2 linked regions of the Homo sapiens genome follow. The protein of the gene in region 2 interacts with the protein of the main gene of each other region in a biochemical or structural test. Each region holds a gene or a part of one and is shown on either strand. Other genes may lie near its edges. The genes, in order: TACR1 and TAC4.

Region 1 (4,128 bases), on a different chromosome or scaffold from region 2:
CTCCTGACTGTAACACATTTTAGCTGAAATTAAGCCCATTTTTTTTGTTGTTTTCAAATAAATAACAATAACTTTTGCTTCTTTAAAAAGGGAGGGATTTTTTAAAGGCTGATAAATTATGTTTACGTATTTATCTTTGCATGTTCATAATGATCTGATCTGTGATTTCACAAAGGGAAAGAGCAGATTGTATTTTGTATTCAGGTATGGTGTGGCCAACAGATCAGGACATGGTTACCACTGAAAGACACTTTATTACTCACAGTTCCCAAGCTGAAGGGCCATGGCCCCACACCAAGCCAAGCCACACAGGAAAGCCTTTATTGGGGTTTTCTCAGGAAGGAGCAGGCAAGGCCGGGTAAACAGGTTTAAGATTGGCTGGTTTGAATAACTTCGGCAGGCTCCGGGGTGTAGGAGCTGCCCCTAGTTGTCTGATGCCTGCCGTTGGGTGATTAGGGCGGGAAAATAGTGTCCTACCCTGTAAGAGCCCAAGAAAGCAAGCAAGTGGAAGTATGGGCTTTGTTTCGGTTAGTTTGCATATGAAAGGCATCCAAGTGGAAAGTTGTTTGTTTTCCAAAGGAATTAGCTCTGCCTGAAACAGTCCCTCCCTGAGCTGCAGGGACCCAGATGCCAAAGTATCAGATACAGAACCAGAAAACACAGTTAATACACACTTGAATAAAGTCATTAAATCACGGACAACAATGGAGTCCCAATAGACTTGCATACCTAAGGTCTGAAACAGTTCTCAGTGCTAGATGTCTATTACAGTAACTTGGGGGAAGTTTCTAAAATGTAATTTCCTGCTCCCAACCTCAAGTCAATTGAATGAATACCTTTGGGCACTGATCATTTTAAAAGTTTCCCTGGTGATTCTCTTTTACATTTGCGGTTGAGAACCGTTGGCCTAAGACAATGTTTCTCAAAGTCTGAACCACAAACAGCAACATCGGCATCTCTTGAGAACTTGTTAGAAATGCAAATTCTCAGGCCCACCCCAGCCCTGCTGAGTCTGAAACTCTGGGTGGGACCCAGCCCTGTGGGGTTGTCGAAGCCCTCCAGGTGATACTGAAGCCCACTCGAGTTTGAGGGCCACTGGTCCAGGGTAAGGAGTATCGGCGAGTTGACCATAGTGTCCCTCCCATCACACTCAGACCCAATCTTGCTCAGTGCCCTGTAGCAATGTCTCGGCAAAGCTCAGCTAACATGTTTTGGTCACAAACTATTAGTCTGCATGAGGCAGGGCTGTTCTTTCAGGTAGGAGAAGTCAGTGCAATTTGGAGGTTTTCAAGTTCTCCCTGCCCCTGTAGTCTCCAAACATTTTGCTTACAAGCAATGCCATTACAGCAACCAGGAGGGACTGAGATCAGCTAGGAAACACAATATGCTGTCCCTGCCATAGTGGTTGGAGAGCCCTGAGGCTCCCAAAGGAGGCGACAATTCAGAGGGCTTTGAAAGCCAGGTGAGACTGGAGCAGCCTGTCTGCACAGAACACATGCACTCACACCCTGCTTGGTGCAATCTGTGATTTGTCACTTAAGCAGTCTTTGAGTATCTTCAAATGCAAATTTGATATGCAGAGGGACTGAATAAGTAGCAAAAACTGTGGGGCTTTACAAAGAAGTGATTAAAAGCAAACAGTATCTACAAAGGAGAAATTGAGTGAATAAGTGGGTTTTCCTCATTGGAAGAAAATCATTGCATAAAATAATCATGAATGGTAAACAGAGGGGAAGAAAAAAATCATTGGGTGGCTTTTCTCCATTGACAAAAGGCTGGTTTTCTGACATCACAGACCTGGATTCTAATCTCAGCTCCTCCCTTTACCAGCTGTGAATTTGGGAAAATTAATTAAATTCTAAATGTGGTTTCCTCGTCTACAAAATGGGATTCATAGTACCTACCCAATCATTTGCTTAAGGATTAAATAAGATAATGCTAGTAAAATGCTTGGCTTTGTGCTTTTCATCAACACTCAAATTTAACTACCATTTCTGCTATTAATACTATCATTAGCATTATTATTAGCACAGTGACCTAGAGTAAGTGCCCCCAAACATTAGCTGTTCTTCCTAGTATTATTATTATTATTATTAGGAATTCTGAGTATCTCCATTATACTCACATCTAAGAAAAGGGCTGTAACTAACCAGACAAACCAAGGACCCCCAAACCCCCAAGAAAAATATATTTTCCCAAAATTCAAAAACCTTATTTAAGTCTGAAAAGGAGCCTTCCCTTTAACAGAAAAGGATAAATTGTGCTGCTGTAACAAACCTCAATATCTCAGTGGCTTAACACCACAAAGGTTTATTTCTTGCTCATGTCCCAGTCAAACGTGAGTCAGTTGGCACCTGTCCTCCAATGGGTAATTCAGGGACCCAGGCAGCTTCTATCTGAAGATATATTCTTAAAGCCCAGTCTTAGAAATGGCTTATGCTATGTGGCTTTCACCCACCCACTAATTCTAGTTCTAGGATTACTCTTATCTCTCTCATTCAGGCTAATTATTCTGATACCGATAAATTCACTTATCACATAGCATAAACTGGGCCTTATCAACCATCATGGTAGTTCTCAACTGAACGTACTAGTTGGTCTACAACCCTGCACTAAGTTGAGCATAAGTGTAGTCTGGCGGGTATGAATTGAGTGGTATAATTACTTCCTTCATTCAGAGACTATACTTCTATTAATGTAGCCTGAGTTTGCATTCTTGTTTTGGGGGGTGGTGTGGGGCAAGTGATATTGAACTGATCATCAACTGAAATCGCTATGGGTATACAACAGATTCAGTGCCCTGTCATCAATGTTTTCTTTTTTTTTAATCTGAACAGGAGTATTCATTATGGAAAAAGTCCACAAGAAAAACATAAATTGTTTTCTGTAGTGTATTCATTAGTATTACCTATCCACCCTATGCAGGTGACAAGTCTCCCTGGAGTGGGCTTTACAGCCCAAGCTTATTAATGGCATATGCTGAGAAAGGTAGCTGCCAAACCTTGACTGCAATAACAATAACAAAAATTAAAAACCTAAAATAATAAGTATATCATACTGACCTTTCCTGTTTACCTTGCTGTAGGTACCACATCTGTGTGACTGTGCTGATCTACTTCCTCCCCCTGCTGGTGATTGGCTATGCATACACCGTAGTGGGAATCACACTATGGGCCAGTGAGATCCCCGGGGACTCCTCTGACCGCTACCACGAGCAAGTCTCTGCCAAGCGCAAGGTGAGCAGGGGACAGGCAGAACTAACCCACCCTGGCACAGACAACAGGCTGTCGAGAAGGGATGGCACACTTGTGAGCCCCAGAGGCAGCTAGCACAAAATATCCCCAGGTATGGGGAGCAACAGAGAGGAGGAGAGGAATCTTTCTTCAGTGTCTTTGGAACCCAGATCTGGCTGGACAGGCATGAGCCACTTCGCTTGCTCTTAAAGAGTAATTGCAACCTCTTGATCCATTAAAACACACACACACACACGCACACTTAAATAAAAGATCAGTGAAGAGTGATTTGGTCCTCTTCTTAAAGTTTGACAAGATAATACATTCACGTGGTTCAAACATCAAAAGGCATTCAAAGGAACAAAATTATAGTGATGAAGAACGGATCAGGGGTTTCCAGGAGTCAGTGTTTGAGGGGGCTTGGGAGGAGTGGCCTACAAAGCGAGAGCGTGAGTGAGTTTCTTTGCAGTGATGGAGCAGCTCTGTATCCTGACTGTGGTGGTGTTTTCATCTATACCTGTGATGAAATTTCATAAATCTATACACCAAAAAAAACAGTGCATGTAAAAACTGGCAAAAACCCAAATATAGTCAGTAGTTTGATGAATGGTCAGTGTCCTGGTTTTGATAATGTGGTATGGTTATGTAAGATGATATCATTGGAGGAGGCTAGGTGAAGACTACCTGGAACTGCTTTGCACCACCTTTGCAACTTCTCGAGGGCCTTCAATTAGTTCAAAACGAAACATTTAAAAAAATTTAATTCTTATCATGGAAAGCCTCTCTCCCTTCTAGATCTGTCATCTACCCAGGTCCCAAGCTTGCACACACACACGCACACACACACACAGATATGCATACAATGGTAACCATTGTTATCTGTTTCTTAACCCTT
Region 2 (3,600 bases):
TCACCCACCTGGTTTGTTTGTGCTGAGGACAACTCAGCCCTCCCTAGGGGGCATGTTGAAGGCAGGTTTGGGCAATACTTACCTTTTTTTCTCCTTGGCTGGATCAGAGGTCTTCCTGGGGGAAGGAGAAGGAATGAGGACTACGGACTGCACTGCTTCCCTGGGGGCTTGGTGAGGTGGAAAAGGCTCCAGTTCTTTGAGGGTTGGTGCATTGGTGGGTCTTCAGTAGAATTCTAGTCATCCCCAGTTATCCTCTGTGGCAGTAGGAATGTGCTGGTAGGGGGCAGTGTGGAGTGGCTGGAAGTGCACAGACTTTGGGGTCACTGGCACCTGGTGCCAGCTGGGTGGGCATCCTTGGGAAAAGTGCTTAACCTATCTGAGCCTTAGTTTCCCCGCTTGTGATAAGGGGGATATTATTGTGGAGATTTAATCTTTTTTTTTTTTTTTTTTTTTTTTGAGAGTCTCACTCTGTCGCCCAGGCTGGAGTGCAGTGGTGCGATCTCGGCTCACTGCAAGCTCCGCCTCCCAGGTTCACGCCATTCTCCTGCCTCAGCCTCCCGAGTAGCCAGGACTACAGGCGCCCGCCACCACGCCCGGCTAATTTTTTTGTATTTTTAGTAGAGATGGGGTTTCACCACATTAGCCAGGATGGTCTCGATCTCCTGACCTCATGATCTTCCCACCTCAGCCTCATAGTAGGTGCTCAAGAAGTATTTTCTCTGACATTCCCATCCCCCATCCTTCATGAGTTGTTGGATTTGGAAAAGAAGTTTGAAATGGGCCGGGCGCGTTGGCTCACACCTGTAATCCCAGCACTTTGGGAGTCTGAGGTGGGCGAATCACGAGGTCAGGAATTCGAGACCAGCCCGGCCAACATAGTGAAACCCCATCTCTACTAAAAATACAAAAAATTAGCCAGGCATGGTGGCTGATGCCTGTAATCTCAACTACTTGGGAGGCTGAGGCAGGAGAATTGCTTGAACCCGGGAGGCAGAGGTTGTAGTGAGCTGAGATTGCGCCATTGCACTCCAGCCCGGGTGACAGTGTAAGACTCCATCTCAAAAAAAAAAAGAAGTTTGAAATGGCTCAGTTCAGAACTCATTTTGTAGAAGAGGAAACTAAGGCCAAAAGTGCTTGGTCACAAGTTGGTTTTCTCTATTTTTATATGTGTATTTTTTTTTTATTACAAAAGCAGTCCTTGAATACATCCACTATTTTGAAAAGGTTTGTACAAGTAAAATTTAAAGTCTCTCTTCCCTTTCTCCCCCCTCATCTCCACTTCTGTCCTTGAAGTAACCACTGTTTACAGTTTGATATTTATCCTTCTAGAACTTTCCCCATGCATTTGCATATCTGTGTGTATGTCGTTTTTTAAAAACAAGTAGGCTCCTCTTGAATATTGATCTGTAACATGCTTTTTCCCACTTAACCATGTATCTTGGAGATCTTTCCACATCTTTCTATGGGTCTGCCTCATTCTCTTTAATGGCCACAAGGGTTAAGGATACGTGTAATAGATTTTGACCATTCCCTGATTGATGGTGTTTATGTTATTTCCGAATTCTTGCTATTACAAGCATGTTGGCAGTGAATACCCTCAGGGCTCATGTAGTAACAGCATGTCTGCCTGAAAAGCGAGACTCTGGGTCAGAAAGGTAAGCACATTTCCAACTTGCCTGGATATTGCGAACGTGTCCTCCAAATAGACAGTGTAAAAGTGCCAGTTTTTTCACACCAAGCCAACACGGAGCATTACCACTTAAAAAATGTAATATTGACAATAAGAGAAAACTGCTCTGTGTGCAGAGTATTTTCTCCTGGTCCCCCAAGGACAGGACTCCTGAGTTGAAAGTGCCTTCAGGGAACACAGGTTTAAGTTAGTAATTTTGTTTCAGCCAAAGAAAATTGACTAGAAAGCTTGGCTTGTGGCTTTGCCCACATCCAGACTGGTCTCTAGCTTCACTGCCACTCCCCAGAGTCATCCAGAGCATGGAAGGCACCACTCAGGGTGCAGAGCCTGTGCCCCCACCCTTCAGGTGCCCGTGCTCCCCATTGTTGGGAACAGCCTTGTTTACACTTGTTGCCTGGCGTAATTACTAACACTCCCCAAAGTGTCCTGGTTGCATGCTAATTTCTTTTTTTGAGATGGAGTCTCGCTTTGTCGCCCAGGCTGGAGTGTAGTGGCATGATCTTGGCTCACTGCAACCTCTGCCTCCCAGGTTCAAGCAATTCTACTGCCTCAGCCTCCTGAGTAGCTGGGATTACAGGCACGTGCCACCATGTCTGTCTAATTTTTGTATTTTTAATAGAGATGGGGTTTCACCATGTTGGTCAGGCTGGTCTCAAACTCCTGACCTTAAGTGATGTACCCACCTCGGCCTGCCAAAGTGCTGGGATTACAGACATGAGCCACTGCCCCCCAGCCTGGATGATAATTCCTATGGACAGTCTGTGCCACCCCATCTCATGAGCGACCCCTACTGGACTGGAGTACCTGACCCCAGTTACTGGGCTTTGACTTAGGGCCTCTGCTTTATGTTGCAGAACCCACTCAGAACCCCTGCTTGCTGGGCTCCATTGTCATTGTCACTCACCTCCCACTCGCTTCCCCATCAGCCCAAAGAACTGGCTTGCCTTGCCCGTCTTCACCTCCTGCAGCTGGAGCTGAATGCTGGGGCCAGCGCCTTCCTGAAGAAGCAGAGAGTTAGTGTTAGAGTTGGGAGGTTGTCCAGCAGACGGGAGGCCAGCCTGGGCAATGGCAATCTCAGGAGTGACAGCTGGTGGTCAGCAGAGACTTGCTGTGCACTGGCACTGGGCACCTCAGCATATTTTACACAGTACTGCACATCTTTGTAATAATAGCTAACATTTCACCTACTATGTTCTGAGCACGTTGATCTAGTAACTAATTTAAACCTCACCAAAACACCAGGAAAACAGTACCCTAAGTACTGTTACTGTCATTTTACACATGAAAACACCGAGACACAGGTTAAAGAATTGTTCAGCTGGGCGCAGTGGCTCACACCTGTAATCCCGGCACTCTGGGAGGCCGAGATGGGTGGGTCGCTTGAGGTCAGGAGTTCGAGACCAGCCTGGCCAACATGGTGAAACCCCGTCTCTAATAAAAATACAAAAATTAGCTGGGCATGGTGGTAGACACCTGTAATCCCAGCTACTCAGGAGGCTGAGGCAGGAGAATTGCTTGAACCTGGGAGGCAGAGGCTGCAGTGAGCCAAGATCCTGCCCCTGCACTCCAGCCTAGGTGACAGAGCAAGACTCCATTTCAAAAAGAAAGAATTGTCCAAGGTCACCCAGCTGGGAAGTGAGAGGTGGAACCAGAAGTTGAACTCAGGCTCAAAGGCTGGTCTGAAACACTGCAGTCATAATCTCATTTAATCTTCACAACCACCATAACTAGTAGAAACTATGATTTCCCCCGGCCCCTGCATTTTACAGATGGAGAAACTGAGATGTAAGGAGGTTAAGTGACTTGTCCAAGGTCACACGGGAAGAGGCTGAGCCAAGATTCAAAGTCTGACTTCACAGTACTGGTTCTGCTCTATCATGGGAAGTGTCTCCAACATAGATGAGGAGAGG

What was found.
Region 1: the proteins of TAC4 (region 2) and TACR1 form a complex in vitro, tested with the Homo sapiens proteins (one study listed by BioGRID).

What each region holds. Positions count from the first base shown.
Region 1 is NC_000002.12:75,052,713-75,056,840, reverse strand, and holds part of TACR1 (substance-P receptor), read left to right. Parts: intron 1-3,085; coding exon 3,086-3,236; intron 3,237-4,128. UniProt on the Homo sapiens protein: This is a receptor for the tachykinin neuropeptide substance P. It is probably associated with G proteins that activate a phosphatidylinositol-calcium second messenger system.
Region 2 is NC_000017.11:49,841,470-49,845,069, forward strand, and holds part of TAC4 (tachykinin-4 isoform alpha-2 precursor), read right to left. Parts: intron 2,689-3,600; coding exon 2,595-2,688; intron 116-2,594; coding exon 83-115; intron 1-82. UniProt on the Homo sapiens protein: Tachykinins are active peptides which excite neurons, evoke behavioral responses, are potent vasodilators and secretagogues, and contract (directly or indirectly) many smooth muscles.